Homo sapiens: one gene and its partners. The protein of the gene in region 3 interacts with the protein of the main gene of each other region in a biochemical or structural test. Each region holds a gene or a part of one and is shown on either strand. Other genes may lie near its edges. The genes, in order: S100A7, ADAP1, RANBP9, AXL and NSRP1.

What was found.
Region 1: the proteins of RANBP9 (region 3) and S100A7 form a complex in vitro, tested with the Homo sapiens proteins (one study listed by BioGRID).
Region 2: the proteins of RANBP9 (region 3) and ADAP1 form a complex in vitro, tested with the Homo sapiens proteins (one study listed by BioGRID).
Region 4: the proteins of RANBP9 (region 3) and AXL form a complex in vitro, tested with the Homo sapiens proteins (one study listed by BioGRID).
Region 5: the proteins of RANBP9 (region 3) and NSRP1 form a complex in vitro, tested with the Homo sapiens proteins (one study listed by BioGRID).

The regions. Positions count from the first base shown.
Region 1 is NC_000001.11:153,456,301-153,463,097, forward strand, and holds S100A7 (protein S100-A7), read right to left. Parts: upstream 4,352-6,797; 5' UTR 4,308-4,351; intron 2,731-4,307; 5' UTR 2,714-2,730; coding exon 2,573-2,713; intron 1,671-2,572; coding exon 1,506-1,670; 3' UTR 1,444-1,505; downstream 1-1,443.
Region 2 is NC_000007.14:932,660-938,783, forward strand, and holds part of ADAP1 (arf-GAP with dual PH domain-containing protein 1), read right to left. Parts: intron 2,847-6,124; coding exon 2,716-2,846; intron 1-2,715. UniProt on the Homo sapiens protein: GTPase-activating protein for the ADP ribosylation factor family. Binds phosphatidylinositol 3,4,5-trisphosphate (PtdInsP3) and inositol 1,3,4,5-tetrakisphosphate (InsP4). Regulates the incorporation of CD63 and CD9 into multivesicular bodies.
Region 3 is NC_000006.12:13,703,585-13,709,708, reverse strand, and holds part of RANBP9 (ran-binding protein 9), read left to right. Parts: intron 1-6,124. UniProt on the Homo sapiens protein: May act as scaffolding protein, and as adapter protein to couple membrane receptors to intracellular signaling pathways. Acts as a mediator of cell spreading and actin cytoskeleton rearrangement.
Region 4 is NC_000019.10:41,256,357-41,261,502, forward strand, and holds part of AXL (tyrosine-protein kinase receptor UFO isoform 1 precursor), read left to right. Parts: intron 1-95; coding exon 96-255; intron 256-1,136; coding exon 1,137-1,273; intron 1,274-3,196; coding exon 3,197-3,548; 3' UTR 3,549-5,146. UniProt on the Homo sapiens protein: Receptor tyrosine kinase that transduces signals from the extracellular matrix into the cytoplasm by binding growth factor GAS6 and which is thus regulating many physiological processes including cell survival, cell proliferation, migration and differentiation.
Region 5 is NC_000017.11:30,166,246-30,172,369, reverse strand, and holds part of NSRP1 (nuclear speckle splicing regulatory protein 1), read right to left. Parts: intron 4,268-6,124; coding exon of another isoform or gene 4,156-4,267; intron 3,470-4,155; exon of another isoform or gene 3,445-3,469; intron 1-3,444. UniProt on the Homo sapiens protein: RNA-binding protein that mediates pre-mRNA alternative splicing regulation.

The DNA of each region.
Region 1 (6,797 bases), on a different chromosome or scaffold from region 3:
AAGGCAGCAGGGGTCTGGTAAGAAAAAATGAAAGCCCAGGGACTGCAGTCCTCTGTGAGTTCCAAGAACAGGTGGAATGAGAATGAGAAAGGGAGAGAAGAAAACTAATGGTCAGACATTGGGATTTGGAGGTGAAAACTGCAGATCAGTCCTGAAGGCTGACAAGGTGCAGAATATGTTCAGGAAGGAAGATTCCTGATGAGGAGAGGAGATGCTGGTCTGTGAATAGAGGTGTGAGTGTGGAGTGGAACAGTCATTCACAAGAACAAATAACTCATCCTACACACTTCTGCTGGGGGAATGGAATGAGAATTTTTGAGATGGTTGCCTGATTCCTCTAAGAAGAATGTTTGCCTGATTGAGACGTTAGCTGGAGATTGACCAGGGTGGTAAGAATGATAGGGACAGATGATGTGAGCCTCTAGGGAGAATACTAAGAGCAGTTGCACAGAACATGGCCTGGAAGTGACACCAGGTGAACACTGACCCTGTGTTGTGGCCTGCATGGAGAGACCCACCAGTGCTCTGCTAGGACAGCACTGTGCCCTGCTTGTTTCTGCATCCTCAGCCCATAGCACACTGCCTGGCCTGGAGTAGACTACCAATAACAAACTACTCCATTACCTGCGAGATAGAGGTGCTGCAATTTCTCATCACAGTCAGCATGAGCTCTCTGTGTCAGTCCTTAGGACATTTCCGTGGTGCTGCCTTATTCCGGCTAGACTCCTTATTTGGACTCCTGGACTACTTTGAGCTCCTCAAAATCTGGAATATTCATTTATCACCAGAAACCCAGTCCTGGCATTTAGCAAACCATCGAGGACAGCTCAGCTTCAAGATGACTCCCTCTCACTTCCACAGGGTCACCCACTTAGGCACATGCACACAAGTGCACAGCACAGAGAGAGGACACAGCCCCTGGAGCCCAGGCCACAGGACAAGGGAGCTCATCCTCAGGGAACTACTGAGCATCCCATTCATAGCCACAAGGGCCCTGAGCCTGATGCCATCCAGGAATCCCTATGTGAGTGGTTTCTGTTTCCCCAAGCCCTGGAGAACAGCTGGGGCAGGAGCGGGAGGGCAGGAGCACACTGAGAGATGCCAGCCCCTTCTCAGTGCGGTATCTGAATGTGTCTGAATGACCCTGGTCCATGCCTTGACAAGGAGGAACATTGCTGTGATCTGGCAGGAGCTTTCCACTGACTTCCACCTGGAACCTGCCATGGTGGCTGCATTTAGGGAGCGGGGCAGAAGCAGACACCAGGACCTGTGTGAGAGGCAGCTCAGCTCTGCTGGAGGCCATAGGGGGAACGTTGCTGGAGGGACATTACTCCTGGGTGACCCACTGGATGGGGGTGGGGGAAATTCTCCAACAAAGTTAACCTGGAATTGGTAGTTTTGACAACGTAGGTCACCAAAGAGAAGAAGAAAATAAGGCAAGTGTCTGGTGGGAGAAGACATTTTATTGTTCCTGGGGTCTCTGGAGGCCCATTGGTGGGGCTGGGTCACTGGCTGCCCCCGGAACAGGGCGCTGCTCCATGGCTCTGCTTGTGGTAGTCTGTGGCTATGTCTCCCAGCAAGGACAGAAACTCAGAAAAATCAATCTTCTTATCCTCATTCTTGTCCTTTTTCTCAAAGACATCGGCGAGGTAATTTGTGCCCTTTTTGTCCTGTGAAGAGAAAAACATACAAAATAGAAAAATTCAATCACAAACAAGTTTTGGGCTGGGAGGGAGAGGAGGAGGCAGAGATACAGACAAGTACCTAGATCTGCACAGGCATGGTGGCGGGGCTGAGAGCACAGGGTGAGTGGGTGAAGTTGGGGTGAGGACGTGAGTGTTATCCCTGGAGTTCTCTAGGGAGTCTTTTTGTCTCACACCTCAGGATGGGAGGCAGGTCCTGTCCCAAGGTGCTCTGTTAAGTGACCTTGGGGAGAGCAGTCCCCTGCCCCAGCCTCACTCTTTCCCGTCCCAGCCTCTAAGGGCACTGCCTACCTTAGTTCTACCCCAGGGCCTCAAAATTGGCCCTCATGCTTTTGTTCTCTTCTTTCTCTGGCCTCCTCTCCTTTCTTCTCCTTTTCCACCAAACTCATCTTCTGGGTATCCTACTCTTGGTCATCTAGACCCTTTGGTACCTAGTAGCCCACAGTTTTTTTTCAGATTTGCTAATGAGTCTTGTTTATTGCAAAGAGGGCTATTGATTTCTACTAACAATGGAACTTCTAGTGCTTTCCCAGTAATCTCAGGGATGTTGATGTGGGGCCTTTGGGAAACAGGACCTGAGCATGTGAGTTTCAGTCTCACAGAGAGAGGGTCAGTGAGTGCTGGGAGGGGACTGTGCACTGCCCTCAAGCTGCACACTTTGCTGACCATCTAATAACCTCCTTTATATCTGTATAACTCTTTCCCATTTTCATACTTTTTTGCCTACCATCCTTAGATTCACATATGATCCAAGTAATAAAGCCCTATTTGCAAATGGGAAATTTTTTAATCAGAGGGTGAGGGTGATCTGTCCAAGGCCACATAGCAAAATGTATCCTCCAACATTGAGAAGCTAGACACCGACTCACACAGGCACTAAGGAAGTTGGGGAAGTTCTCCTTCATCATCGTCAGCAGGCTTGGCTTCTCAATCTTGTCATCACGTCTGGTGTATTTGTGAAACATGTCGATCATGCCTATTATGGACCTCTCAGCTTGAGTGTTGCTCATCTTTGCTTTCAAAAAGCCTTCAGGAAATAAAGACAATCATTTTTTTCCCTTCATTTAAGTTAGGGTCTCTATTTGGGAGTGCTGGAAGGAGGGCTGAGGACAGAGTAAAAACACGGATAAGGTGTAGCAGAACGAACTCAATTTTTTTTTAATGTGATGGGATAAGTTGCTCAAAAATGAGAGGGTAGGACCAAGTCTGAGACCTGGCCCATCCTGGCCAGGGCCAAGAGGAGATGCAGGTGGATGGCGGAAGTCCAGCTGTGGACAGTGCTTCAGAGAGGGAGAAGCAGGGAGAGTCGGGCGCCAGCAACACATGGAAGAACTAAGCTGGGACACCCCAGCCTCAGCCAGCACATGGCAGACCCCACTCTTAAAAGAGCACCAAATCCATCTCCTCCAGCTTCACAGTCGGGGTGACAGTCATGGGGGCAGGACAATGGCCTTGGTGATCTGGTGTCTGACCCTCCTCGGCTGCTTCAGGAACCAGACACCGTGGGCCCCACCTTGACTCAAGTGCAAGCCCTGCATGACACGGTGTGTGCAGGCTCCAGGTGCACATGTGAGCGTGGACGTGAGTGTTAGCAGGAAACACAGTCCTGTCCCGAGCACAGGGGGCCCTTCTTGTATTCCCTTGGGAACGAGAAACAGGAATGGCCTCTGTTACAAGGAACAGAAATAACTCTCTGGTTCTTAAGCTGCTGGACGGGGTGGGAGTGAGGTGGGAGTCACTTCATGTCTGCTCTTGGGAATTATCTGCACCCTCTGAATCACCAAGCCTTGACTGTTTAAATAAAAATGTCTGACTTCCCAAAGCAGATCTTTCAGCCAGTAGTCAGTCTGGGCTGGCCTGCACCCCAAGCCTGAAAAATAGGACAGTGCAGTTCTCACTTCCCACACTTTCCAAAGAACCAGGAAAGGACCTTGGCTAATGCATATGGGTGTCTGACAATAAACCCCCAACACCTCTCAATGCAGGAGAAAGCTCCATGCCGGCAACTGACTAAGAGGAGCCACCCAGAGCTTTTTTGAATCTGAGGCCAAGGCCAGAGGGCAAGCCCTGTGCCCAGAGGGTGACTGACAATTTGCAGGTTGTGGTAGGGAGTGACGGAGCGTTGGTTTCTCAATACCTTACCCAGGTAGGGGCAAGCCATCTGGCCAGGGCTATGCTGTGTCGGGGTCCCAGGCCTGGGGGTTTGGAGAGCCTCCAAAGCATTCACAGGGGACCCCTAGCCCTCCACCCTCTGTGGAGCTGGAGCTGGGGAGGGGATTTAGCAACCGGGACCCCAACAGGAGGATGAATCCAGGGAGGAAGAGGACAGGGAGGGTCCTGTGCTCAGGTCCCACTGGGGACATTTCCACAGGAGTTGCCTCAGGAGATCCCAAAGGAGCAATGGACAGGTCTGGTTCAGCCACCTGGTTATACAGACGTGGGCTTTTGGGGTCAAGTGAAGGTCACACAGCCCAGCTAATGGCAGAGCTGGCCTAGACCCAGGCTTCTGAGTCTTTGTCCACAGCCCTTTCCCTTCCTACAGGCAGCATGGCAGGCCAGGCACTGGGCACTTCTAGAAAACGCAAAGAGGCAGGTGAGACTTACCAGAGCTGGGAAGCGTCACGAGTAGAAGGATGAGTGAGATGTGTGTGTTTGGACAAAGAGCAGTCCTTTATAAGGCTCAGCCTGGCTCTTCCCAGGGGCTGGGAGGCCTGGGGCCACCTCTGTCATCTGTTTCTTGGAGGCTTGCCCCACATCAGGTGGGTGGGACACACCCAGGAGGCTGTGCTCAGGATTTCTGGCCAGTGTCCCAGGTCACCAGGTCCCACCCCACCCCAGAGACCTCACCTGGAGTCTTCTCTGGCTCAACCTTGATTTGAGGGTAAGGCAGCGGTACATGTGTAGTAGCAGGTCAGAAAATGGGAGAAAAGAGCACTGGGCCTCTGGACCCAAAGAGGATGGAGTTTCAGACTCCTGAAGGCAGCATGGTCTTGTTTGTTCCCTCCCCTTATCCTTCCACACATTTGTTATGACAGCCTGTTCTATGACCCCCACCGCTGACTGAGCATTTTAATGTCTAGATATCAAGATACCTGCTGCTCCTGCATCCTCCTCAACCCTCATAGTCCTAAGAGGTGCTTCAATCTCTATTTTAGGAAAGGAGAAGTTGAGATGTTCCCAAGTTTACTCAGCTAGTAAACACAACAAATCATTATATGGACTCAGAAAAGCCTGAATCAAATCCTTACTCTTATCCCCTGTGCTATAGGTCTTGGGTCACATCAGGGTCTGCCCTATGGGAACTCAAAGTCCAGGGAGGGAAGCAGGGTTACTTCATTGCTAACCATTGGTCAGCCCCTCACAGAAGCCCTGGAATTAGGTGGGGGGACTGGGGTCAGGGGCCTCACTATCTAGGTTGAGTGGTGGAGTGACCCCCCCATGGAATGAGCCTGGAGGCAGGGAGTGGGAAAAGTTCTTTCCTGCCCCATGGCACTAACTTCCCAGAAAGTCTTCAGTGTTTTTCCTCCTCCTATGCAAAACAGCCTGTGTAGGAGTTGGGAGTTGTGCCCTTGGCTATAATGTGCCCTAACCTGCTGTGGAAAGGCTGACCCAGGTAGGGGCAAGAGGGTTGGGAAGGCATGGGAATCCCTGGGGCATGGTGAGGAAAGGGAGATGATGAATCACTGAAATGGACTTTTTCTGCTACCCCCTTGCAATGTTCCTTTTAGGGTGCAAGAGAGTTCCAGGTTCATTTAGTGCCAGCCCTTTAAGCACTCTGGGGCTCCACAGAGCTGATGTGATGTCTCCCTAGGTGGGACCTATTTTCTCCACCCATCATCTTTCTTCAACTTCCTTCTCGTCAGTACCTATGTAACCAGGGGGACCTGTTTCTCCCTCTCCCAGTTCCCCATGTGATGGCAATATTACTTTTAACAGCAAAAGATACATACACACACACACAGTGGAATGCTACTCAGCTATAAAAAAAGAATGAAATCACGCTTTTTGCGGCAACATGGATGGAACTGGAGGCTATTATCTTAAGTGAAATTACTCAGAAAGTCAAATACTGTGCAACCTCATGTGTAAGTGGGAGCTACATCATGCATACAGATGGAGGTAGAGAGTAGAATCATAGACACTGGAGACTGTGAAGGGCAGCAGGTGAGGCGGTGGGTGAAGGATGAGACATTTCTTAGTGGGTACAATGCATGCTATTTAGGATGGCTTCATTAAAAGCCCAGACTTCACCATTGTGCCATATATTCATATATATGTGTATGCAGGTTTTTGTGTGGACATAAGTTTTCACTTCTTTTGGGTAAATCCCAAGGAGTGTGATTTCTGGATCCTATGGTAAGAGTATGTTTAGTTTTTTAAGAAAGCACTAAACTGTCTTCCAAAGTGGCTGTACTATTTTGTGTTCCTGCCATCAATGAATGAGAGTTCCTGTTGCTCCACATCCTTCTTCAGCATTTGCTGTTGTCCAGTGTTCCAGATTTTGGGCATTCTCATAAGTGTGTACTGGTATCTCATTGTTGTTTTAATTTGCATTTCCTTGAGGACATATGATGTGGAGCATCTTCTGATATGCTTATTTGTCACCTTCTGTATCTTCTTTGATGAGATATCTGTTAAGGTCTTTGGCCCATTTTCTAATTGTTTGGTTTGTGTTCTTATCGTTGAGTTTTAAGAGTTCTTTGTATGTTTTGGATAACATACAAAGTCTGATATGTCTTTTGTAAACATTTTCTCCCAGTCTGTGGCTTATCTTTTCATTCTCTTGACAATATCTTTCACAAAGAGAAATGTTAAATTTTAAAGAAGTCCAGCTTATGAATTCTTTCTTTCATGGATTGTGCCTTGGTGTTGCCATCTAAAAGTCATCACCAAAACCAAGATGATCAAATTTCCTCTTATGCTACCATCTAGGAGTTTTGTAACATTGTGTTTGCATGTAGGTCTATGATTCATTTTGAGTTATGTATCATCACTGTTTAGAAAAAAGGAACAGAGGAAAAGTAATACAAAAGGAATCAGGGACAACAATATTAATACAAGACAACAAAGAATTCTAAGAAAAGGGATTAAATG
Region 2 (6,124 bases), on a different chromosome or scaffold from region 3:
AGGGATGGATGTCACATCCCAGTGTCCCCCCCTGGGTCAGTGAAGGTGGGTCGAAGGGCGAAGGGACGGATATCACATCCCAGTGTCCCCCACCCAGGTCAGTGAAGGTGGGTCGAAGGCGGTGAGCCCAAGGTGGGCCGGGGTCCTGAGGGGATTCGCAGGGACGCCCTCAACTCAGGGTGTGGGGGATCACGGCATTAAGTGCAGAAGCTGATTTGGGGTCGCCCTGGGTGGGTCAGGGACTCTGCTGTCCTTGGGTCTTTTTCTGTCTCCCAGGCTGGAGCACAAAGGTGCAATCACAACTCACTGCAGCCTCGAATTCCTTGGCTCAGCCAGGCATGGTGGCTCACGCCTGTCATCCCAGCACTTCGGGAGGCTGAGGTGGGTGGATCACCTGCGGTCAGGAGTTCAAGACCAGCCTTGCCAACATGGTGAAACCCTTCTCTACTAAAAATACGAAAATTAGCCGGGCGTGGTGGCGTGCACCTGCAATCCCAGCCACTCGGGAGGCTGAGGCAGGAGAATTGCTTGAGCCCGGGAGGTGGAGCTTGCAGTGAGCCGAGATCATGCTACTGCACTCCAGCCTGGGCGACGAAGCCAGACTCCGTCTCAAAAAAAAAAAAGAATTCCTGGGCTCAAACAATCCTCCTGCCTCAGCCTCCTGAGTGGCTGGGATTACAGGCACCACCCCCACACCTGGTCGAGGCACTGGGATCCCAGCTGTGATTTCTAACAAGCCTCCAGGTGTGACCCATGCACCAAGGCTGCCTGTTAGAAGCAAATGAGCTACTCCCAACCAGGGGCAGGGGTCAGTGGTGCTGGAGAGCCGGGGGCCGGGGTCAGTGGTGCTGGAGAGCCGGGGGCCGGGGGCCGGGGTCAGTGGTGCTGGAGAGCCGGGGGCCGGGGTCAGTGGTGGTGCAGAGCCGGGGACCGGGGTCAGTGGTGCTGGAGAGCCGGGGACCGGGGTCAGTGGTGCTGGAGAGCCGGGGGCCGGGGTCAGTGGTGCTGGAGAGCCGGGGGCCGGGGTCAGTGGTGCTGGAGAGCCGGGGGCCGGGGTCAGTGGTGGTGCAGAGCCGGGGACCGGGGTCAGTGGTGCTGGAGAGCCGGGGACCGGGGTCAGTGGTGCTGGAGAGCCGGGGGCCGGGGTCAGTGGTGGTGCAGAGCCGGGGACCGGGGTCAGTGGTGGTGCAGAGCCGGGGACCGGGGTCAGTGGTGCTGGAGAGCCGGGGACCGGGGTCAGTGGTGCTGGAGAGCCGGGGGCCGGGGTCAGTGGTGGTGCAGAGCCGGGGACCGGGGTCAGTGGTGCTGGAGAGCCGGGGGCCGGGGTCAGTGGTGCTGGAGAGCCGGGGGCCGGGGTCAGTGGTGGTGCAGAGCCGGGGACCGGGGTCAGTGGTGCTGGAGAGCCGGGGACTGGGGTCAGTGGTGCTGGAGAGCCGGGAGCCGGGGTCAGTGGTGCTGGAGAGCCGGGGGCCGGGGTCAGTGGTGGTGCAGAGCCGGGGACCGGGGTCAGTGGTGCTGGAGAGCCGGGGGCCGGGGTCAGTGGTGCTGGAGAGCCGGGGGCCGGGGTCAGTGGTGGTGCAGAGCCGGGGACCGGGGTCAGTGGTGCTGGAGAGCCGGGGACTGGGGTCAGTGGTGCTGGAGAGCCGGGAGCCGGGGTCAGTGGTGCTGGAGAACCAGGGGCTGGGATCAGTGGTCCTGGAGAGGGGGTGCCAGAGTCAGTGGTGTTGGAGAGGGGGGGCCCAGGGTCAATGGTGCTGGAGAGGGGAGAGACATGTACAGGAGGCCACCAGCCTCTACGACCCTCCCCATCCCCACAGCAGCCCCCAGACCACCACTCTCACCTCCATGCGGCCCTTCGGTCCCACTCACAGCAGTCAGGAAGATCAATGGCTTCCAGACCCCAAGTCCCACGAGTGGGGCTGGGGTGACCCTCCCACCGGGTCTTCAGGCCCCACGCTCCATCCGACCTGCAGCCCCCAGCCGGGGTCTTGTTCCTTCTCCACCTCCCTCGGGGTCTCCCTACGGGGCCCTTCCTGCCGCCTCCAGCATGCGTGGCCCCTCCCTGCACGCCAGGGCTTCCTGGTTGGCTCACACCCGTCTCCCTCCCCATAGGGGCGTCTCTAGGGCCCCACGAAGCATCTGTGGCTGGTGTCCCTGCCTGGCCATGCCAAGTGCTCCGTGAAGCCTCATCAGATGCATGGGTGAGAGGTGGGCAGTGGCTGTGTCACCTCAGAGGCCGCCCAGGGGACAGGTAATGGTGCCCTACACGGCAGCGGGCCGGGGTGCACGTGGACTGCCGTGTAAATGCGACCCTGACTCTGGGTCGTGCCGCGCGGCCTGGGACGCTGCATTCTGTTTCCTTAGAGACAGGGTCTCTTTTACCCTGAGCCCAGTGCTCCAGGTGTGGGGATTTGAGGGGAGCACTCCGGAGCTCCCAGGGCACGGGAATCGGCGACCCGCCTTCGCTCCCTGGCCCACCACACACACCTGGAGCTGCTCACAGAGAGGTTGGACCCGGCACGGGGTGGGTGGAGCAGCCACACAGGCGGAGCCGCTGGAGAGGGGGCGGGGTCCTCGGGTCCAGCCAGCCAGGCCCCCAGAGTAGCCCAAGGCTCCAGGGGCCACAGCCAGGCCGCCCGGCATCTCTGGCTCCAGAGGCCCGGGCTGAGGCCACCCGGGGACTGCGCGGGTCCCCCCGCCCCTCCCCCTCCGTACCTCCACTTGGGCCTCCTCCCAGGCGTCCAGGCGGACGGACTTCACCTTGCTGACCTGGGGGATATTCCGGTGGATTCCCGAGCAGCTCAGGCAGATGAAGACGCCCAGAGTGTAGGAGGCCCAGTCGGGATCTGCAAGGGAAAGCCGGACGTTCACGGAGGCTCAGCCCAGGGACCCCGGAGGGAGGGTGGACGGAGCCTCGAGTCAGGAGCCCCCGGCCATGCAGTGGGGGGGGCTTCAGCGGAGACCCCCGGGTACACCAGGCTCCGTGCGCCCCACAGGCACCTAACCCCAGCTCCCCCCCCGCCCTCTGCCCGGTGCAGACGGGGCTCTCCCCAGACACCCCACGGCATCTGAGGAAGCCGATCTGCATGCACCTGCTCTGCCCCGCGGGTGCCGGGAACCTCCAGCAGAGGCCGGCCCCACAGGAGCCCATGCCCCGGGCTGGAGGGCACCCGGCACTCGTGAGGATGGGTCCACCTGCTTTCCTCGTGTCCGCTGCCCTGGGAGAAGTCTGTGGGCCCGAATCCTCCTGGGTGATGGGGCCAAGATTGGGAAATTCAGATAGGATCTGAGTGCAGGGGGTGCCTCACACCCAACGCGCTGCACACCCCCGAAGGACGGATGGTAGCCGCGGATGACGACGCACCCTGCGTGGGGTGACAGCGCCCGGCGGCCACTAACTTTGCAGGTGTGACAGCGGCGCTGTGGCTTCACCCTGCATGTGGCCTGTCTAGGGATTCCACGTCTCGATGTCTGGTTTGCCTTAAAAGGTCCAACAAAGCTGGACACAGTGGCTCAGGCCCGTAATCCCAGCGCTTTGGGAGGCTGAGGGAGCAGAATTTTTTTTGAGACATAGTCTGTTGCCCAGGCTGGAGTATGATGGCACGATCTCGGCTCGCTGCAACCTCTGCCTCCCGGGTTCAAGCGATTCTCCTGCCTTAGCCTCCCGAGTAGCGAGGCACGCACCACCATGCCCGGCTAACTTTTGTATTTTTAGTGGAGATGGGGTTTCATCATGTTGGCCAGGCTGGCCTCGAACTCTTGACCTCAAGTAATCCACCTGCTCGGCCTCCCAAAGTGCTGGGATGACAGGCGTGAGCCACTGCCCAGGGTGTGGGTGCCACAGCGCAGTCTTTCTGCTGCTGCACGTGTGAAATGTCTCATTCTGAAACGGCAAAATGTGGGGAGCGTCCAGCCCCGCCCTGGGGCGATGGCTAAGAGGGCTGCTGTGTGACTCTCCTGTTTTCTTCTGGCTCCCAACGACCCTTCACAATAAGTCAAGGGAGTGGAATGGCTGAAAGGCACCCTAGAGAGAACAGTCTCTCTGGGGGAGATGAGTCATCTCTGAACTGCTTTTATTTTTAAGTGGAGGCTCTCCTGGGTGAGGCTGGTGGAAATCGAGGCGCTTCCCCACAAGCAGGTGCGGCTGTGGACCCAAGCCTGTTTGGGGAATCATGAGTGGAGAGGACCCCACCCTTCAGGCCTGGCGGAGGATAGCCCCCCTCCCAACGCTGATCGGGGCCCACCCCTGGCTGGTGGGGGACTCCCATGCCAGGCGGCGGAGGCCCAGTGGGGCTGGGGCTGGGCCTGGGCTCTGAGTCACTGCCAGGAGGAGAGGCACCCAAGTGAGCCCCCGGCCGGGGATGGTGCGTGAGAACCAGCAGGCTGAACCTCGGATTTGGGGGTCATGCCCGGCCTCTGGGATTTGGGGGTCACGCCGGGCCTCGGATTTGGGGGTCACGCCCGACCTCTGGGATTTGGGGGTCACGCCCGGCCTCTGGGATTTGGGGGTCACGCCCGACCTCTGGGATTTGGGGGTCACGCCCGACCTCTGGGATTTGGGGGTCACGCCCGGCCTCTGGGATTTGGGGGTCACGCCCGACCTCTGGGATTTGGGGGTCATGCCTGGCCTCTGGGATTTGGGGGTCATGCCTGGCCTCTGGGATTTGGGGGTCACGCTGCACATCTGGGATTTGGGGGTCACGCCGGGCCTCTGGGATTTGGGGGTCACGCCCGACCTCTGGGATTTGGGGGTCACGCCCGGCCTCTGGGATTTGGGGGTCACGCCCGACCTTTGGGATTTGGGGGTCATGCCCGGCCTCTGGGATTTGGAGGTCATGCCCGGCCTCTGGGATTTGGAGGTCATGCCCGACCTCTGGGATTTGGGGGTCACGCCCGGCCTCTGGGATTTGGGGGTCACGCCCGACCTCTGGGATTTGGGGGTCACGCCCGGCCTCTGGGATTTGGGGGTCACGCCCGACCTCTGGGATTTGGGGGTCATGCCCGGCCTCTGGGATTTGGGGGTCATGCCCGGCCTCTGGGATTTGGGGGTCATGCCCGACCTCTGGGATTTGGGGGTCATGCCCGGCCTCTGGGATTTGGGGGTCACGCTGCACATCTGGGATTTGGGGGTCATGCCCGGCCTCTGGGATTTGGGGGTTTTCTGTCACAGCTGTTAGGCTCCCTGATTAATGAAGCCTGTCTCCCCATTAACGTGGGCTTCTTGAGGACCCCAGACCCAGCACCCCCGGATCTGGCACAGAGCTCAGTCCGGAGCAGGTCTCCACGGGAGTCATGAATGAAGGGGCCACTAACAGCCCTACTTCAGCAGAGCCCCTGTCTTCGAGAGAGACCACAGGCTTTCTCCTCACCCCTCAGTCAGTCAAACATTTGCCCAAGTGACCCTGTCTCGGGTACCAGGAGTTTTGCCTGTGCTGAGTAGGGCGGCTTTTGGGAGAAAGAATGCGGTTACAGGATCAGCCGTTGTTTGGTTTTGCGGGGTTTTTTTTGTCTTGTATTGTATTGTTTTGTTTTGAGACAGGGTCTTGCCCTGTTGCCCAAGGTGGAGTGCAGTGGTGCAATCACAGCTCACAGCTCACTGCAGCCTCCAACGCCTGGGCTCAAGCGATCCTCCTGCCTCAGCCTTCCAAGTAGCTGGGACCGCAGGCATGCACCAGCATACCCAGCTAATTTTTAAAATTTTTGGTAGAGATGAAGTCTCTCTATGTTGCCCAGCTTGGGCTTGAACTCCTGGGCTCAAGCGATCCTCCTGTCTTGGCCTCCTAAAGTGTTGGGATTACAGATGTGTGACGCCGTGTCTGGCCTGCAAAGTATTTAGTTACACACACCCCTGGAGAACAGGTGGGGAAGAACCACACTGAAGTCCCAGAAGAGAGAGACCTGACTCCCCCCGGGCTCCGTCTTCTCCCGAAGCCTTGGTGAAAGATGCCGCAAATGCTCGGTACGTGGCTGTGCGAGGGGCGCCCAGAAGGCACGCCAGTCTCCGGGCCTCGGTCTCCTCATCTGTCGGATGGGACAGCACGAGCCACTTACAGGGGTAGCAGGCAACATGAGCCCAGCTGGGAACATCACCGCTCGGGGTGCAGTGGGGGGCCCTCCTTCTCAC
Region 3 (6,124 bases):
GCACAAAAATAGGCCTTGTTGAACATTCTTTTTATTCTCGCCATACATCCAAAGAAGTACTTCCAAGTGTTATCCTCCTTAATCTAAACGTCTGAACGTTTCATTCACAATATCAAATCTTTGTTTTTTCTCAAGTTAGGACCTTTTGTTAATTTCCTTGTGAAGTATTTCTACTTTTATGTTTTAATTTGTGTGAACGGTGCTATGTTATGAGGTGTTTACTTCTGATCTGGCTGCCAGAAAGCTATTGTTAGATGTGACAGAATTTTATAATTTTAAATTTATGGTTGACAGTAAATAATTTGCTCATAAAGTCAGAGCCAGTGTAGATGAACAAAGAATTCTAGATTTCCTGAGTTCTGCAGTTGTTTGTGGTTGTAGATATTTTACAAGACTGAGCCTCAGTTTCTTCCTCTGAGTGGTGTGTAAGTTGAGCTGGACGATTGGTAAGGAAATTTCCAGCTCTGAATTTCCGTGATGTCTAAGATTCGTGATTACTGTTTATTTAGTACTGTAAGGTGTCTTGATTAGTTTTAGTCTTTTACATAAAATTGATGATTAGGTCAGAGAAAAATACACGTTTATATGAAATTAGTTGGAGTTTGGAATATTTCTGACACTGCTGTCTCAGTTGTTTTTATTCTTGGCCTCTTTATTACTTTCTGTTGTGTAATACTAAGGTTCACTTTCTGGGAACATAACTGTTTTATAAACATAAATCATTATTTCTGGAAGAACAGATTTTGTTGTTATCCTTTTATTTTTCCTCTCTTCTATCTTTCCTTTGTCTCTCTCTTACCCCTTGTCAGAAAGTCTTTTTCCCTTTCTACTGCCTCTTCCTCTTGTCTTGTTACTGTAGACTGTGTGTGTGTGTGTGTGTGTGTGTGTGAGTTTTCCGTTGTTACTGTTGATTTTCTGCGTGTTTTGTGAGAGGACCACGCCGATTGTGGTGGGCAACTGTGTCCCAGTAGCAGTAGCAGTAGCAAAGGAGAAGTATCATAGAGAGTAGATAATACTTTAAAATCACAGAATAAGAAGAGTGAATTTTTATTTAACCTATCATTGTGCTGCATTGGTTTTACCTAAGTATCATGAGACACTTTTAACAGTAAAAACTACTATTCATATATTCACGTATTACAGAATTTCAAAAGAATGATTTTAATTATTTTCCAGAGTGACGAGAATTTTCCTTATCTTTGAAATAGAAGTATTTTGCTTTCTTTTGCTCCAAAGGTATTCTGGTTTTTTGTTGTTGTTCTGGTGTTTTTGTGTATGTGTGTGTGATAGGATTTCAACTTTGTTGCCTTGATGGAGTGCAGTGGTGCGATCATGGCTCACTGCAGTCTAGACCTCCTAGGCTCAAGGGATCCCCCTGCCTCCATCTCCCAAGTAGCTGGGACCACAGGCTCCTGTCACTATGCTGGGCTAAGTTGTAATTTTTTTTTTTGTGGAGATGGGGTCTTACTGTGTTGCCTAGGCTAGTGTTGAATGTTTGGGCTCCAGTGATCCTCCCACCTTGGCATCCCAAAGTACTGGAATTACAAGCCTGAGCCACTGTGTCCAGCCTGTATTCTGTTTTTAAGATGTTCTTCTAAATTGAAATTACTGCTTTTGGAAGCAGTATTGTTCCTGAAATGATTTGAAGAGATTAATGTTAGATAATACTAGACATGCAGATAAGGTTGATTGGATTGCAGAGGAACAACAGGGTATGTATAGTATATGTGAAATTTTTTTAAAGGCCTTTTGCTTAGCAGTCACACAACAACTATTGAAAAACCCAGGGATAGCCCCTCTTATTTTTGAAATTGTTGTCAGTATTGAATAAGTACAAATGTGACAAGTTTAGACTTAGTTATAATGATAACGGGAAAATAATTTTAATAAATATGACAATGGACTTAGTTTAAATGTTTCAACAACAGATTGCATTTTTATATTTTTCTAGTTATTACCACTATTTGGATATTTTATAGAGTGCTTTATATATACACACACTAGTGGATCTGGACAAGATCCTGGAATTTTCATTTTAAATTTTAGAGAGTGGTAGAACCTGGAGGTTAGATCTTCCCAGTCATGAGTAAATCAGGATTGAAAATTTTCACTAACTCCAGATTTAGTGTTCTTTTCACAATCCCATAGTATTGCCTCTTTAAGTTCATATGAGACTTAATTATCTCAAGTAGATAAAATCCTGTGATCACATTTAGAACTTTTAAAGAATAGTTGAGATTGAAAATACTTACTCTGGGGGAAAAAGGTAACTGGAACACAGTGCTTCAGAAAAGTCCAGACACCTTGATTTTACTAATTTAGAACAGTTTAGAAGAAATCCAAGGTAAGTCAAAGTTGGGAATTATAGGAAGCAATGAAATAGTCAATTTCAGTGGGTGTGGTGGCTTACGCCTGTAATCCCAGCACTTTGGGAGGCCAAAGTAGAAGGATCGCTTGAGCCCAAGAGTTCTAGACCAGCCTGGGCAACATAGTGGGACCCCGTCTCTACCCCTAAAAATTAACCGGGCTAAGTGGCACACACTTGAAATCCCAGCCACTTAGGAGGCTGAGGGAGGAGGATTGGTTGAGCCCAGGAGGTTGAGGCTTCAGTGAGCTATGATGGCCTGGGTGACAGAGTGAGACCCTATCTTAAAAAAAAAATAAGTAAATAAATAGTGAATTGCATTTTTTTTTTTTTTTTTTGAGACAGAGTCTTGCTCTATCGTCCAGGCTGGAGTGCGGTGGTACAATCTCTACTCATTGCAGCCTCTCCTGGGTTCATGCAGTTCTTCTGCCTCAGCCTCCTGAGTAGCTGAGTAGCTGGGATTACAGGCGCTTAGCACCACGTCCGGCTAATTCTTGTATTTCTAGTAGAGACGGGGTTTCACCATGTTGGCCAGGCTGGTCTTGAACTCCTGACCTCAGATGATCTGCCCGCCTCGGCCTCCCAAAATGCCGGGATTACAGGCATGAGCCACTGCGCCTGGCCTGAATTGTCCTTTTTTTTTTTTTTTAAGATGGAGTCTCGCTCTGCTGTTGTCAGGCTGGAGTACAGTGGCGCCATCTTGGCTCACTGCAACCTCCGCCTCCCGGGTTCAAGCAATTCTTCTGCCTCAGCCTCCTGAATAGCTGAGAATACAGGCATGCGCCACCACGCCTGGCTAATTTTTGTATTTTTAGTAGAGGGGAGGTTTCAACATGTTGGCCAGGATGGTCTCGATCTCTTGACCTCGTGATCTGCCCGCCTCGCCCTCCCAAAGTGCTGGGATTACAGGCGTGAGCCACAGTGCCCAGCCAGAATTTCACTTTTTAATTGAAATGTTATGAACAATAACCAAATAGGTTGAACTTTTTTGTTGTTTTTTGAGACCGAGTCTTGCTCTGTTGCCCAGGCTGGAGTGCAGTGGCGCCATCTCGGCTCACTGCAAGCTCCGCCTCCCGCGTTCACGCCATTTTCCTGCCTCAGCCTTCCAAGTAGCTGGGACTACAGGTGCCCGCCGCGACGCCCGGCTAATTTTTTGTATTTTTAGTAGAGATAGGGTTTCACCGTGTTAGCCAAGGTGGTCTCTTATCTGCTGACCTAGTGATCCACTCGCCTCGGCCTCCCAAAGTGCTGGGATTACAGGAGTGATAGGTTGAACTTTTGTTATACTTACTCTGTCTTTCCCACCTGTACCCCCAGTCATTAGCGCTTGAACACTTCCTAAATATAATTGCTTATCTAATTTCTTGCACTTTTTAAGTTTGAACAGATATTTCAGCATGCTTGCTTACAAGTGCAAATGTCTGTTAAGCATTACGGGGGTGATATAAAAATGTTTCTTTTTTTTTTTTTTTTTTGAGACGGAGTCTTGCTCTGTCGCCCAGGCCCAGGCTGCAGGGCAGTGGCGCGATCTCCGCTCACTGCAAGCTCCGCCTCCTGGGTTCAGACCATTCTCCTGCTTCAGCCTCCCCAGTAGCTGGGACTACATGCGCCTGCCACCACGCCTGGCTAATTTCTTTTGTATTTTTAATAGAGAGGGGGTTTCACCGAGTTAGTCAGGATGGTCTTGATCTCCTGACCTTGTGATCTGCGCGCCTCGTCCTCCCAAAGTGCTGGGATTACAGGCGTGAGCCACCGCGCCCGGCCTAAAAATGTTCCTTAAAATGAAGGAATTGAAGAATTACTTGCCAAGATTTTGGGAAATTAGGTTTAAAAATGCCAGTTGGTAACTGCAAGAATCAAGTAAATCTAATAATCATGCAGAACAGTAGACAATAATAATGTATATTCTTTTTTTTTTTTTTTTTTTTTTTTTTTTTGAGACAGAATCTTGCTCTGTCGCCCAGGCCGAAGTGCAGTGGTGGCACTTTGTCAGCTCACTGCAACCTCCATCTCCTGGATTCAAGTGACTTTCCAGCCTCAGCCTCCCAAGTAGCCGGGATTACAAGCGCCTGCCACCACGCCTGGCTAATTTTTGTATATTTAGTAGCGATGGGGTTTTGCCATGTTGGCCAGGCTGGTCTGGAACTCCTGACCTCAAGTGATCCGCCTGCCTTGGCTTCTCAAAGTGCTGGGATTATAGGCGTGAACCACTGCACCCAGCCTAATGATATATATTCTGCTAGACTAGACAATTTATATGTGTTTTTCACTGTTCATTTCTTCATTTATTTAATGAGCTTTTAGTGAATGTTTACTTTGTGCTAGGTTCTGGACACTCAGAGGTGGAGAAGATACTGTCATTGAATTCAGAGAGCTCAGAGGACATAAAATAGAGTAGTAAGGGAAATATTATAGAGAGTACTGTGGAAAATAGGAGGAGCGTATAACCCAGGCTGACATTGGAAAGAATGAAGGAAGTGTAGGTATCAGGGATAGCTTCTTGGAGGAGTCGAGGCTAGTGGTCAGTCTTAAAAGATGAGTAGGATATAGGAGAAAGGGAGGGGCTAGGTGTTGCAAATGAAGGAAAAGCAAAAACATAGAGAATTACTTTATGTGTCTGGTTTTACAAGCAATTTTGGGTTGGCATTTAGAGTATGTGACAAGGAGCATCTGGGAAAAGATCAATTAGGAGGCTTTTTTTTTTTTCTCTTTTGAGGCAGGGTCTGACTCCATTGTCCAGGCTAGAATGCAGTGGTGCGATCTAGGCTCACTGCAACCTCTGCCTCCTGGGCTCAAGTGATCCTCCCACCTCAGCATCCTGAATAGCTGCAACTACAGGCACGTGCCACCATTCCCAGCTAATTTTTTGTATTTTTTTGTAGAGAAGGGGGTTTTGCCATGTTGCCCAGGCTGGTCTCGAATTCCTGAGCTCAAGCCATCTGCCTGCCTTAGCCTCCCAAAGTGCTAGGATTACAGGCAGGAGCCACTGTACCTGGCCCAGTTAGGAGCCCTATGGAATATTTTGTTGAGTTTAGATCTTATTCTGTAGGAGATGGAGAATCATCAAAGGATTTTAAATGGGAAGTGACTGGCTCATATCTTCATTTTTGTCAGATTACGCAGCTGATTGGAAGATAGATTCAAGAGGTTACAAGAGTGGGAATAGTAAATTCATTTAGAAGACTATTGCAGTAGACCATGTTAGAATTGACCTCAGCTGGGTCAGTGGTAAGGCCAGAGAAAGGCAGATATATTTGTGAGATATTTAAAAGTAATACTGAGAGGATATGAGGAATGATAGTGAGAGAAATCAAAGAAAATGTTTGGGTTTCCAACTCTGTTAGGATGATGTTTGGGTCTTTAGCTGTTAGGCTCTTGCAGTGAACCATGAATAAAATAATGATTGTGAAGGAGACTGTATTACAGTATAGTTGGAGATAAGTAAAAATGGGAATCTCAGCCCTGTGATCTGACTTCATGGAAACCAGAAGAAGCCAAAGAAACAAGCCTTACAGAAAGAACAGGAACAGGTCTTTTGGAGTTAAGGGGACTCTAACTGGTCTTAATAGTCATGACTTAATTCTATTCTATTAAAATGACTCAGCTCCAATCACTAGTTTCTGGTTGTTTTATTTCTTTTTCCCTACTGACTGGCTTATCCTTTCCTTCCTATGTCAAATTCCTGAGAGACTTAACAGATTGGCCTGGCTAATTGCTATGATTCTTAGTTGGGCAGAGCTTTTCAATACAGACTATGTT
Region 4 (5,146 bases), on a different chromosome or scaffold from region 3:
AGGGGAGGAGGTGCAGATGTGTCTGAGAGCCAGGGCAGGCTTCCTGGTGGAGGTGACTGATGCCCTGACCCTGTTCCTTTCCCCAATCCAAACAGGCTGAATGAGAACATGTCCGTGTGTGTGGCGGACTTCGGGCTCTCCAAGAAGATCTACAATGGGGACTACTACCGCCAGGGACGTATCGCCAAGATGCCAGTCAAGTGGATTGCCATTGAGAGTCTAGCTGACCGTGTCTACACCAGCAAGAGCGATGTGGTAGGTGCACTCCCGCCAAGAGTGGGGAACCATGGGAGGGCATGGCCTGACCATCACACACTATGCCTGGGTGGCTGTGGATGCAAGGGTCACAGGGACATGTGGGCTTCCCTTTGCAGGGGCTTGTCCACATGGGCTGGGCATGTCTTGGGGTATGGTGGGCATCTCTGAATAGTGGTGTGTACATGCCCAGGATAAATACAGGCCCACGTGTGCATGGTAGCAATGTAGACAGTTTAGGTTAGAAGAAGCTGCAGTGATTATGCGTGCATGTGCGCACACTCATAGAATGTGGACAGCCAGGGTGTGCAGAGTGGCACATGAGCTCATGTGTCCATGAAGTGTGTATATGTGTGTGATGGTGAGCATGTGTATGCATCCACAAAAGTTACTTATTCATGTGTATACCCGTGTCAAGTATTTTTTATATATATATATTTTTCTTTTTTTGAGATGGAGTCTCGCACTGTCACCCAGGCTGCAGTGCAATGGCATGATCTCAGCTCACTGCAGACTCTGCCTCCCGGGTTCAAGCAATTCTCCTGCCTCAGTCTCCCGAGTAGCTGGGATTACAGGCGCCCACCACCATGCCTAGCTAATTTTTGTATTTTTAGTAGAGACGGGGTTTCACTATATTGGCCAGGCTGGTCTCAAACTCCTGACCTCAGGCAGTCCGCCCACCTCAGCCTCCCAAAGTGCTGGGATTACAGGCATCAGCCACCGCACCCGGCTAAAGTATTATGTTTCTATGAATACTTGTGATGCTCCCAGAGGATGGTTGTGAACATGTGTACATAAGTGTGGGTGTACCCATGAACCTGGGTATTGGTGCGGGTGATTCTGTGCAGGAGAGACTGTCTAATTCCCTCTGCCCCTCACAGTGGTCCTTCGGGGTGACAATGTGGGAGATTGCCACAAGAGGCCAAACCCCATATCCGGGCGTGGAGAACAGCGAGATTTATGACTATCTGCGCCAGGGAAATCGCCTGAAGCAGCCTGCGGACTGTCTGGATGGACTGTGAGGACCCTTAGGTCTCCCCCAACCCAGAATTCATTCCAAACCCCTGACTACCCCCAGATGGCCCTCACAGGTCCAGGACTCTCTATAACCCAGACAGAATCCCTGAGAATGCTGAGTGACCCACTTGCCCCTCACCAATGCTCTGAGTAGGGCCATCACTAACCAGTGGGGTGCAAATCAGCTAAAGGCACCCTTTCCTCCTTTGTCTGTGTGGGCTGAATCAGCCCCCTGGCTCCCCACCCCCAAGCCAGGTATCCTTGGGTAGTGAATAACAGCACAGTCTTACCTGGCGGCCCTGCCTTTGGGACATGCACTCCCAGAGACTTCTCATTCCAGACTCCTGAGCACACCATGCTTCCCCGACATGCTCCTCAACACCTGAGACTCTCTGCAAAACCCTTCAGTTTGTTTTATTGGCCTTCTCCAGACTCAGGTCTCCTCTGAGATATTTGCAGGATCCTTCAGGGAATGCTTACCAAACTTTGCAATATTGGAGTATGCGGAGAAGGCCGTGACATTTAGCTAGCACTTTGAGGGTAAAGAGAGGATGACTTTGGGTCAGGAGGAGACAGCCTGGGGCGTCAGACTCCTCAGTCCACCTTGGGTACTCCAAGAGCTGAGACGAGTAAAAATAACAGCTAACATTTTCATATAACTGACTAGAAGGCACTGTTTTAGGTGCCTGGCATGTGTCAAATCATTTGGTCCTTACCACAGCCATGTGATGTAGATAGGTATCATTATGATTCCCATTCTGCAGATAAGAAAACCCAGTCCTACAGGGAGGGTAATTTATTTTTATTTATTGACTTGAGTCTCGCTCTGTCGCCCAGGCTGGAGCACAATGGCTCCATCTCGGCTCACTGCAACCTCCCAGGTTCTAGCGATTCTCTTGCCTCAGCCTCCCAAGTAGCTGGGACTACAGGCGTGTGCCACCATGCCCAGCTAATTTTTTTTGTATTTTTAGTAGAGATGGGGTTTCACCACCTTAGCCAGGATGGTCTTGATATCGTGACCTCATGATCCACCCGTCCCAGCCTCCCAAAGTGCTGGGATTATAGGCATGAGCCTCCACGCCCAGTCTGGGAGGGTGATTTATTTGCCAAAGATTGCACAGCTGGTGTGTTTGTTATCTATATCCCCAAATCAAGTAGTTTAAAACAACAAACGTTTATTATCTCACACAATTTCTGAAAGTTGGATACTGGGAACAGCTTAGCAGGGTGATTTTGGTTCAGGATCTCTAATGAAGTTACAAAGATATCACTGGGGGCTGCAGTCATCTGAAGGTTGGGACTGGAGGATTGCTTTCAAGGTGGCTTACTCACATGGCTGTAGCAGGAGGCTTCAGTTCGTTGCCATGTGGACCCCTTTGTGGCACTGCTTGAGCTTACTCACAACATGGCAACCCAGGAGAAAGTGCGAGGAAGCCACATGCCTTTTATGACCTAGTCTCAGAAGTCACACACACCATCACTTCTGCCAAATCAGAAGCAAGTCACTAAGTCCTGCCCATGCTCAAGAGGAGAGGATTTATTCTCCGTCTTTTGCAGGGAGGAGGGTCAAAGAATTTATGGACCTATTTTAAACCAGCACAGCTTGTAAGTGGCATAGCCAGGCTTTGATGCAAGTCTGTTCTGGGGAGCTGGAAGGTCTGTTCTAGCAAACCCTCATCAGAATACTACTCCATATACAGACAGGTTTCCCGAGACCCTTCCCAGCTCCTGAGTCTCCCAGGACCCAACTCAGAAATTCTTGGGAATTCCCAAATCCCCATAGATGGCCTCAAACTGCTGAGGCTCCCTATAACCCTCTAAAATGCCCCCAGTCCCCTGAGTGTCCTAAAATGTCCCCAGGCTTCCAGAATGCACCCCTTCTGAGTCCCTGCTCAATCTCCCACCCCTCATTTTGCTGCCCTAGGTATGCCTTGATGTCGCGGTGCTGGGAGCTAAATCCCCAGGACCGGCCAAGTTTTACAGAGCTGCGGGAAGATTTGGAGAACACACTGAAGGCCTTGCCTCCTGCCCAGGAGCCTGACGAAATCCTCTATGTCAACATGGATGAGGGTGGAGGTTATCCTGAACCCCCTGGAGCTGCAGGAGGAGCTGACCCCCCAACCCAGCCAGACCCTAAGGATTCCTGTAGCTGCCTCACTGCGGCTGAGGTCCATCCTGCTGGACGCTATGTCCTCTGCCCTTCCACAACCCCTAGCCCCGCTCAGCCTGCTGATAGGGGCTCCCCAGCAGCCCCAGGGCAGGAGGATGGTGCCTGAGACAACCCTCCACCTGGTACTCCCTCTCAGGATCCAAGCTAAGCACTGCCACTGGGGAAAACTCCACCTTCCCACTTTCCCACCCCACGCCTTATCCCCACTTGCAGCCCTGTCTTCCTACCTATCCCACCTCCATCCCAGACAGGTCCCTCCCCTTCTCTGTGCAGTAGCATCACCTTGAAAGCAGTAGCATCACCATCTGTAAAAGGAAGGGGTTGGATTGCAATATCTGAAGCCCTCCCAGGTGTTAACATTCCAAGACTCTAGAGTCCAAGGTTTAAAGAGTCTAGATTCAAAGGTTCTAGGTTTCAAAGATGCTGTGAGTCTTTGGTTCTAAGGACCTGAAATTCCAAAGTCTCTAATTCTATTAAAGTGCTAAGGTTCTAAGGCCTACTTTTTTTTTTTTTTTTTTTTTTTTTTTTTTTGCGATAGAGTCTCACTGTGTCACCCAGGCTGGAGTGCAGTGGTGCAATCTCGCCTCACTGCAACCTTCACCTACCGAGTTCAAGTGATTTTCCTGCCTTGGCCTCCCAAGTAGCTGGGATTACAGGTGTGTGCCACCACACCCGGCTAATTTTTATATTTTTAGTAGAGACAGGGTTTCACCATGTTGGCCAGGCTGGTCTAAAACTCCTGACCTCAAGTGATCTGCCCACCTCAGCCTCCCAAAGTGCTGAGATTACAGGCATGAGCCACTGCACTCAACCTTAAGACCTACTGTTCTAAAGCTCTGACATTATGTGGTTTTAGATTTTCTGGTTCTAACATTTTTGATAAAGCCTCAAGGTTTTAGGTTCTAAAGTTCTAAGATTCTGATTTTAGGAGCTAAGGCTCTATGAGTCTAGATGTTTATTCTTCTAGAGTTCAGAGTCCTTAAAATGTAAGATTATAGATTCTAAAGATTCTATAGTTCTAGACATGGAGGTTCTAAGGCCTAGGATTCTAAAATGTGATGTTCTAAGGCTCTGAGAGTCTAGATTCTCTGGCTGTAAGGCTCTAGATCATAAGGCTTCAAAATGTTATCTTCTCAAGTTCTAAGATTCTAATGATGATCAATTATAGTTTCTGAGGCTTTATGATAATAGATTCTCTTGTATAAGATCCTAGATCCTAAGGGTCGAAAGCTCTAGAATCTGCAATTCAAAAGTTCCAAGAGTCTAAAGATGGAGTTTCTAAGGTCCGGTGTTCTAAGATGTGATATTCTAAGACTTACTCTAAGATCTTAGATTCTCTGTGTCTAAGATTCTAGATCAGATGCTCCAAGATTCTAGATGATTAAATAAGATTCTAACGGTCTGTTCTGTTTCAAGGCACTCTAGATTCCATTGGTCCAAGATTCCGGATCCTAAGCATCTAAGTTATAAGACTCTCACACTCAGTTGTGACTAACTAGACACCAAAGTTCTAATAATTTCTAATGTTGGACACCTTTAGGTTCTTTGCTGCATTCTGCCTCTCTAGGACCATGGTTAAGAGTCCAAGAATCCACATTTCTAAAATCTTATAGTTCTAGGCACTGTAGTTCTAAGACTCAAATGTTCTAAGTTTCTAAGATTCTAAAGGTCCACAGGTCTAGACTATTAGGTGCAATTTCAAGG
Region 5 (6,124 bases), on a different chromosome or scaffold from region 3:
GAGCATTTCATTTGAGCTTCACATTAGTGCTCAAAAAAGTTTTAGATTTTAGAACATTTAGGATTTTTGATTTTCAGATTTGGGATGCTCAACCTGTTTTCTGGTTGGCAATGGTGCCTTACTTATAGTTAAAAGTAAAAAGATAATAATACAAATTAAACTAACATTTTCAGGGTTTTTTCCCTAAACTTCAGGAAATAAATGAATTTGCATTGTAAATCCTCAGAATAGATTATAAGGTATCAGAGAAAATAGAATGGTACAGGAAAAGATGAGTAAACATGAATTTTTAGTCCTAAATTCACTACTGTCATTCAACCTTTACAGATTTCAATTTGCTTCATGTGAACATGTGAGAGAGAGAGAGAGAGAGAGAGAGAGAGAGAGAGAGAGGGAGTGTGTGTGTGTGTGTGTGTGTGTGTGTGTGTGTGTGTGAGAAATGGGGAAAGACTGGTCTAGATAATATTTCAGGTACCTTCCAACACTAAAATGGTATGATTCCCAGCTTACAAAAAGCAAACTATTTTAATATTCACCACTCAATATAGTGTATCAAGCTCTCGGTTTATGTTTAAGGCTTAGGGACAGCAGCAACTATTCGTGGCAATAATCAAAAACTATGTACCAAAAAGCATGTTTAGGTCCTGAGGATAGTGAAAAAGCAAGAACAGTCTCAGTCTTAGGCCAGAGACTGAAACAAAATCTTGTTTTTCAGATAAACAGTCTGAAAGGGAAGACAATTAAAGAAATAATCACAATATATGGCCAGGCGCGGTGGCTCATGCCTGTAATCCCAGCACTTTGGGAGGCTGAGGCAGGCAGATCACTTGAGGCCAGGAGTTTTGAGACCAGCCTGGCCAACATGGTGAAACCCCGTCTCTACTGAAAATACAAAGATGAGCCGGGAGTGTTGGAGCACAGCTGTAATCCCAGCTACTTGAAAGGCTGAGACATGAGAATCACTTGCACCTGGGAGGCAGATGTTGCAGTGAGCCAAAATTGTGCCACTGCACTCCAGCCTGGGCAACAGAACCAGGCTCTGTCTCAAAAAAAAAAAAAAAAAAAAGACAATTACAATATAAATGTGATAAGCAATATAATAAAGGAATAAACAAAGCACTGTGGGAGCCCAGGGCAGAGAAGGCAACTAAATGTATATGAGGAATCAAGAATCCCTTTCCAAAAGAGATATGACATTAGACCAGAATCAAAGAGAATAAAAATGTAAAAGAATGCAAGAGGAAGATAGGAAGTAGTCATCACATGGGCAAAACTAAAGATTACATACAGCTAAGAAAAAAAAATACTTAAGAAAAATATGTTTCCTTAATAGTACAGGCTTTAATCATCAGGGAAATGTAAATCAGAACCACTAAGAGATAACACCTCACACCTGTTAGAATGGCTATTCTAAAAAAGTCAAAAAATAATAAAGGTTAGCATGGGTGCCAGAAAAGGGAATTCTTATATACTGCTGGTGCAGATGTAGGCTGGTACAGTCAATATGGAAAACAGTATGGAGGTTTATAAACAAATTAAAAATAGAACTACCATACAGCCTAGCAATCCCTCTTGGCATATAGCCAAAGGAAATGAAATCACCACCTGGTAAAGGTAGCTTCACTCCCATGTTCATTGCAGCATTATTTGCAATAGCCAGGTATGGAAACAATCTACCTGTTCATTGACAAATGAATGGATAAAGAAACTGTGGTAAATATGTATGATGGAGTATTATTCAGCCTTTAAAAAGGAGATCTTGCCATTTGCCACAATATGAATGGGCCTGGAGGACATTATGCTACATGGTAAGCCAGACACAAAAAGAAAAATAGTACCTGACATCATTTGTAAGTGGAATCTCTCACAGAGATAAAGAACTTAAAAACAATGGTTACTAGGGGTGGGGTGAGAGGAAATGGGAAGAGGTAGGTATGTAACAAGATGAACAAGTCTAGAGATCTAATGTACCACATGAGGACAATAGGTAATAAAATTGTACTATATATGGTATTCATGCTAAATGAGTAAATTGTAGCTGCTCTTGCCACAGAAACAAAAAAAGTATGTAAGATAATGGACATGTTAATTTGCTTTACTGTAGTAAACTTTTTACCATCTATATCCCATAATTGTTATATACCTTAATATGCACAATTAATTTTTTTCAAGTATCAGGATTTGCAAATATACTGACACTGAATTGTATAAAAGCATGAATTTTATGCTATGTGAATTACATCTTTTTAAAAAAGCCAAAATAAAGCTACTGATGCATTTTTAATTCTTTCATTTGTGGGGGCAAGGGCTACATGGGTTATCTCTGTCCCTCTCAATTTTGCTGTCAGTCTAAAACTGCTGTTTAAAAAAAAACGAAGTCTTAAATATACATAAAAACATATGTGTAAGTTTTAAATATATATATGTACACAAAATCCTCAGCTCTAGAATTATAGTAGTCCAGCCTATTAACACTTGCTATCTTCAGTTGTATTGTACCAGCAATTGGTGCTTTTTTTTTTTCATGGTAATAACCAGAACAAAATAGTTCTCTATGACCACAGACAAATCAATTTAATACACAAAGGTCATATAATACATATTTAAAAAATTAAATAAGTATGCAAAGAACTAAAGACATTTTAGGTGATGGTAAACTGACTAACTGGGGGAAAGATGTTGATAACAAAAACAGTAATAGCTGCTAACATTTATTGAGCTAGGTGCTATGCTAAGTATACTAGTTGTGTATTACATGTATTACTGATTTAATCCAAATTTCTGTTACATGTAATATGAAACTTTCATTCACTAGAATATCAATTTTAAATACCAAAACTGAAAGTAATAGTTAATATTTCCAATGTATTTTCATGTCTGTATTTCTGATTAGTATGAATGAAAAATATTTTTCTTGACCACTGAGTTAATGATGTCTTCAGGACTGACTGAGAAGATTACATCTCCAAATGCTGGATGTTTTCCTCTTTTACTTGCTTTTATTTTTTCCTATCTCCTCCTTCAGTCTGTCACCTTTAATCTGTCAGAGTTTACCTGCTGCCTTTCAAACTGGATGCTTCAATCTAAACTATGTAACTTGGTTGTTATGGAAGATTCTCAGAGAAATAAAATAACTTTTAAAAAGAAAACTTGGGAAAGAAAAACACAAGGCTATACCTTTCCAGACTTTTATAAAATATAGAATAAGCAGACTGAGAAAGGCCTTTCCAATGTAGACTATATCTATTTTGAGACACCTCAAAAGATTTTGTTTCTATGTTCATAGCTGTTTAGAAGAATGAAGTATGACCGTTGAAAAAACAAGCTGTTACTACTTACACAGGAAGGTAACATAATGGAAGGAGTGCAATAGTTTTACATATTCTATTCACAAACTTATATCCCTAGAATTCAACAGCATCAGTGGATAACTCTGAACCTAACCTGAAAAAGTCAGGAAAAACTGATGATCTTTTGAAGGTCATTTGATTCTCAATTTTCTAAATAAAGGTACTTTAACAATTACCACTAAGGATGACGATTAAATGCCAAAAACCTGTTTAAACAAATACAAAAAGCTTAAAAGAGTAGCAGTAAAACTTTTACTTTTTTCTGTAATAGTAACCCTATATAAAAATATATAAAATGATCTTCTATATAACATAAAAAACTCATCTAGATTCAGATCAGACTGAAAAATAACTACTACAATTAAAAACAATTTCCTCATAAAAGAGCAGATACTTATTTTATTTTATTTATTATTATTATTATTACTATTATTATTATTATTATACTTTAAGTTTTAGGGTACATGTGCACAACGTGATTGTTTTCAGATAACCATAATAATTATACTATGTAATTTTAAGATTGAGAACAAAAATTGGCACATGTATTGTGGCCTATTCTGTGTGTCTTTTTTGAATCTATAATTCTGCTAAGAACTGTGCAGAATATAAAAGGATGTTGCTTGTGTTTAATTTTTATGATTCTTTAAATATATTTTAAATGGAAATCCAGAAAGGAAATATATTAATCTAAAAATAGTAACAACAACAGTAGTTACAATAATCCTAACAACTTCAGAAATAATGGATAAGTAAGCTAAATGACATATAGAAGTCACCTTTAATTGTTAAGGCTACAGATTACCTGAGAGAATTTAAGGACAAACAGCTGGTGAATGGCAAAGCAAGATTCCAATTCAGGTACTCTTATTCCAAACTTTAATAACTTTCCTTTAAACACCAGTACTGGATATACACTGAAATGTCTCAAGACAACACAGAATTAAAAGGCATGGAAAGGTACAAATAGCCTATAGCATAAATCTGATTTAAACTTTATAATATTGAACGGTGTCCTATGTTGCTATTATTGGAAATTCACCAACTGAGATGATTCCTCTGAAAACGTAAAGCTGAGGTATGATTCCATCTACTAGAGTAACATAAGTATTATTATAACTGTACATGTACTGTTGACCATTAGAGTGGAAAGTCACATAAAATGAAAACACAGAATGTTATTAACATTAAAGGAAAAACGAGTCTATTTAGTATTTGATATTTTAAGTACTGTTTCTACATCTACTCCATAGTATCAATGAAAAACAGATTCCTTCAGATACATTGTAGTCATATCATGAATGGGAAAATATTTTTCTTTTTAACAAATATCTTAAATACATATATTTATGTGTGAGAAAAAAAACTACTACAATTAAAAGCAGATCAGTAAGATCTTATTTTTTTTTTTAAGACAGAGTCTCACTCTGTTGCCCAGACTGGAGTGCAGTGGTGCGATCTCGGCTCACTGCAACCTCCGCCTCCCGGGTTCAAGAGATTCTCCTGCCTCAGCCTCCTGAGTAGCTGGGAATACAGGCGCACACCACCATGCCCAGCTAATTTTTGTATTTTTAGTAGAGACAAGGTTTCATCATGTTGGTCAGGCTGGTCTCGAACTCCTGACCTCATGATCCACCTGCCTTGGCCTCCCAAAGTGCTGGGATTACAGATGTGAGCCACCGTGCCCGGCCAGATCTTATGTTTTTAAAGGTCAAGTCTTTTTACGTTTTTAGTGGTATCCTTAAAATACTAATACAGTATACATACACAACAGAATAGTATTTGGCCATAAAAAGAATGAAATCGTATCATTTACAGCAACATGGAAGGAACTGGAGGTCATTACCTTAAGTAAAATAAGCCACACACAAAAAGATAAATATCGTATGTTCTCACTTCCATGTGGGAGCTAAAATAAAAACTTTGATCACATGGAGGTAGAGTGAAAAGGTAGATAACAGACTGGGAAGGGTAAGTGAGGGAAATGGGGAGGATAAAGAGAAGCTGGTTAAAGGGTACAAACATACAGTAAGATAGAAGGAATATATTCAGTGTTTGACAGAAGAGTAAGGTGACTATCCTTTTTGTTTGTTTGAGATGGAGTCTTGCTCTGCTGCCCAGGTTGGAGTGCAGTGGTGTGATTTCAGCTCACTGAAACCTCTGCCTCCCGGGTTCAAGCGATTCTCCTGCCTCAGCCTCCCGAGTAGCTGGGATTACAAGTGTGCGCCACCATGCGTGGCTAATTTTTTTTGTATTTTTAGTAGAGATGGGGTTCTGCCATGATGGCTAGGCTGGTCTCGAACTCCTGGCCTCAAGTGATCTGCCTACCTCGGCCTCCCAAAGTGCTAGGATTATAGGCATGAGCCACTGCACCTGGCCAGGGTGACTACCCTTAACAAAAACGTATTGTACTTGGGTAACAGACACTAATTGCTGACTGACTTGATCACTAAGCATTGCATTCATATAACAAAATCTCACAGGTATCCCATAAACTTGTATAAAATTTTTTCAAATACTAACACAAATTTTAAGAGAACTTTTAATTTAGTCTGGTTTTCATAAAAAGAAAGGATACTCAAGAAGGTAAATATCACAAAAGCAGATCCTCTTGCCATAAATCAGGGAAGGGTTGATCTTATTGAACTCAGCAAGAGAAAAAATAGATTTCATAAGTGCCCTGTGAATAAAACAAAACTTATATAATAACTGCAAAGATTATTAATCTCTAACTTCAGTGTTCCTATACTGTACAGCATGAGGAGAACTTACAA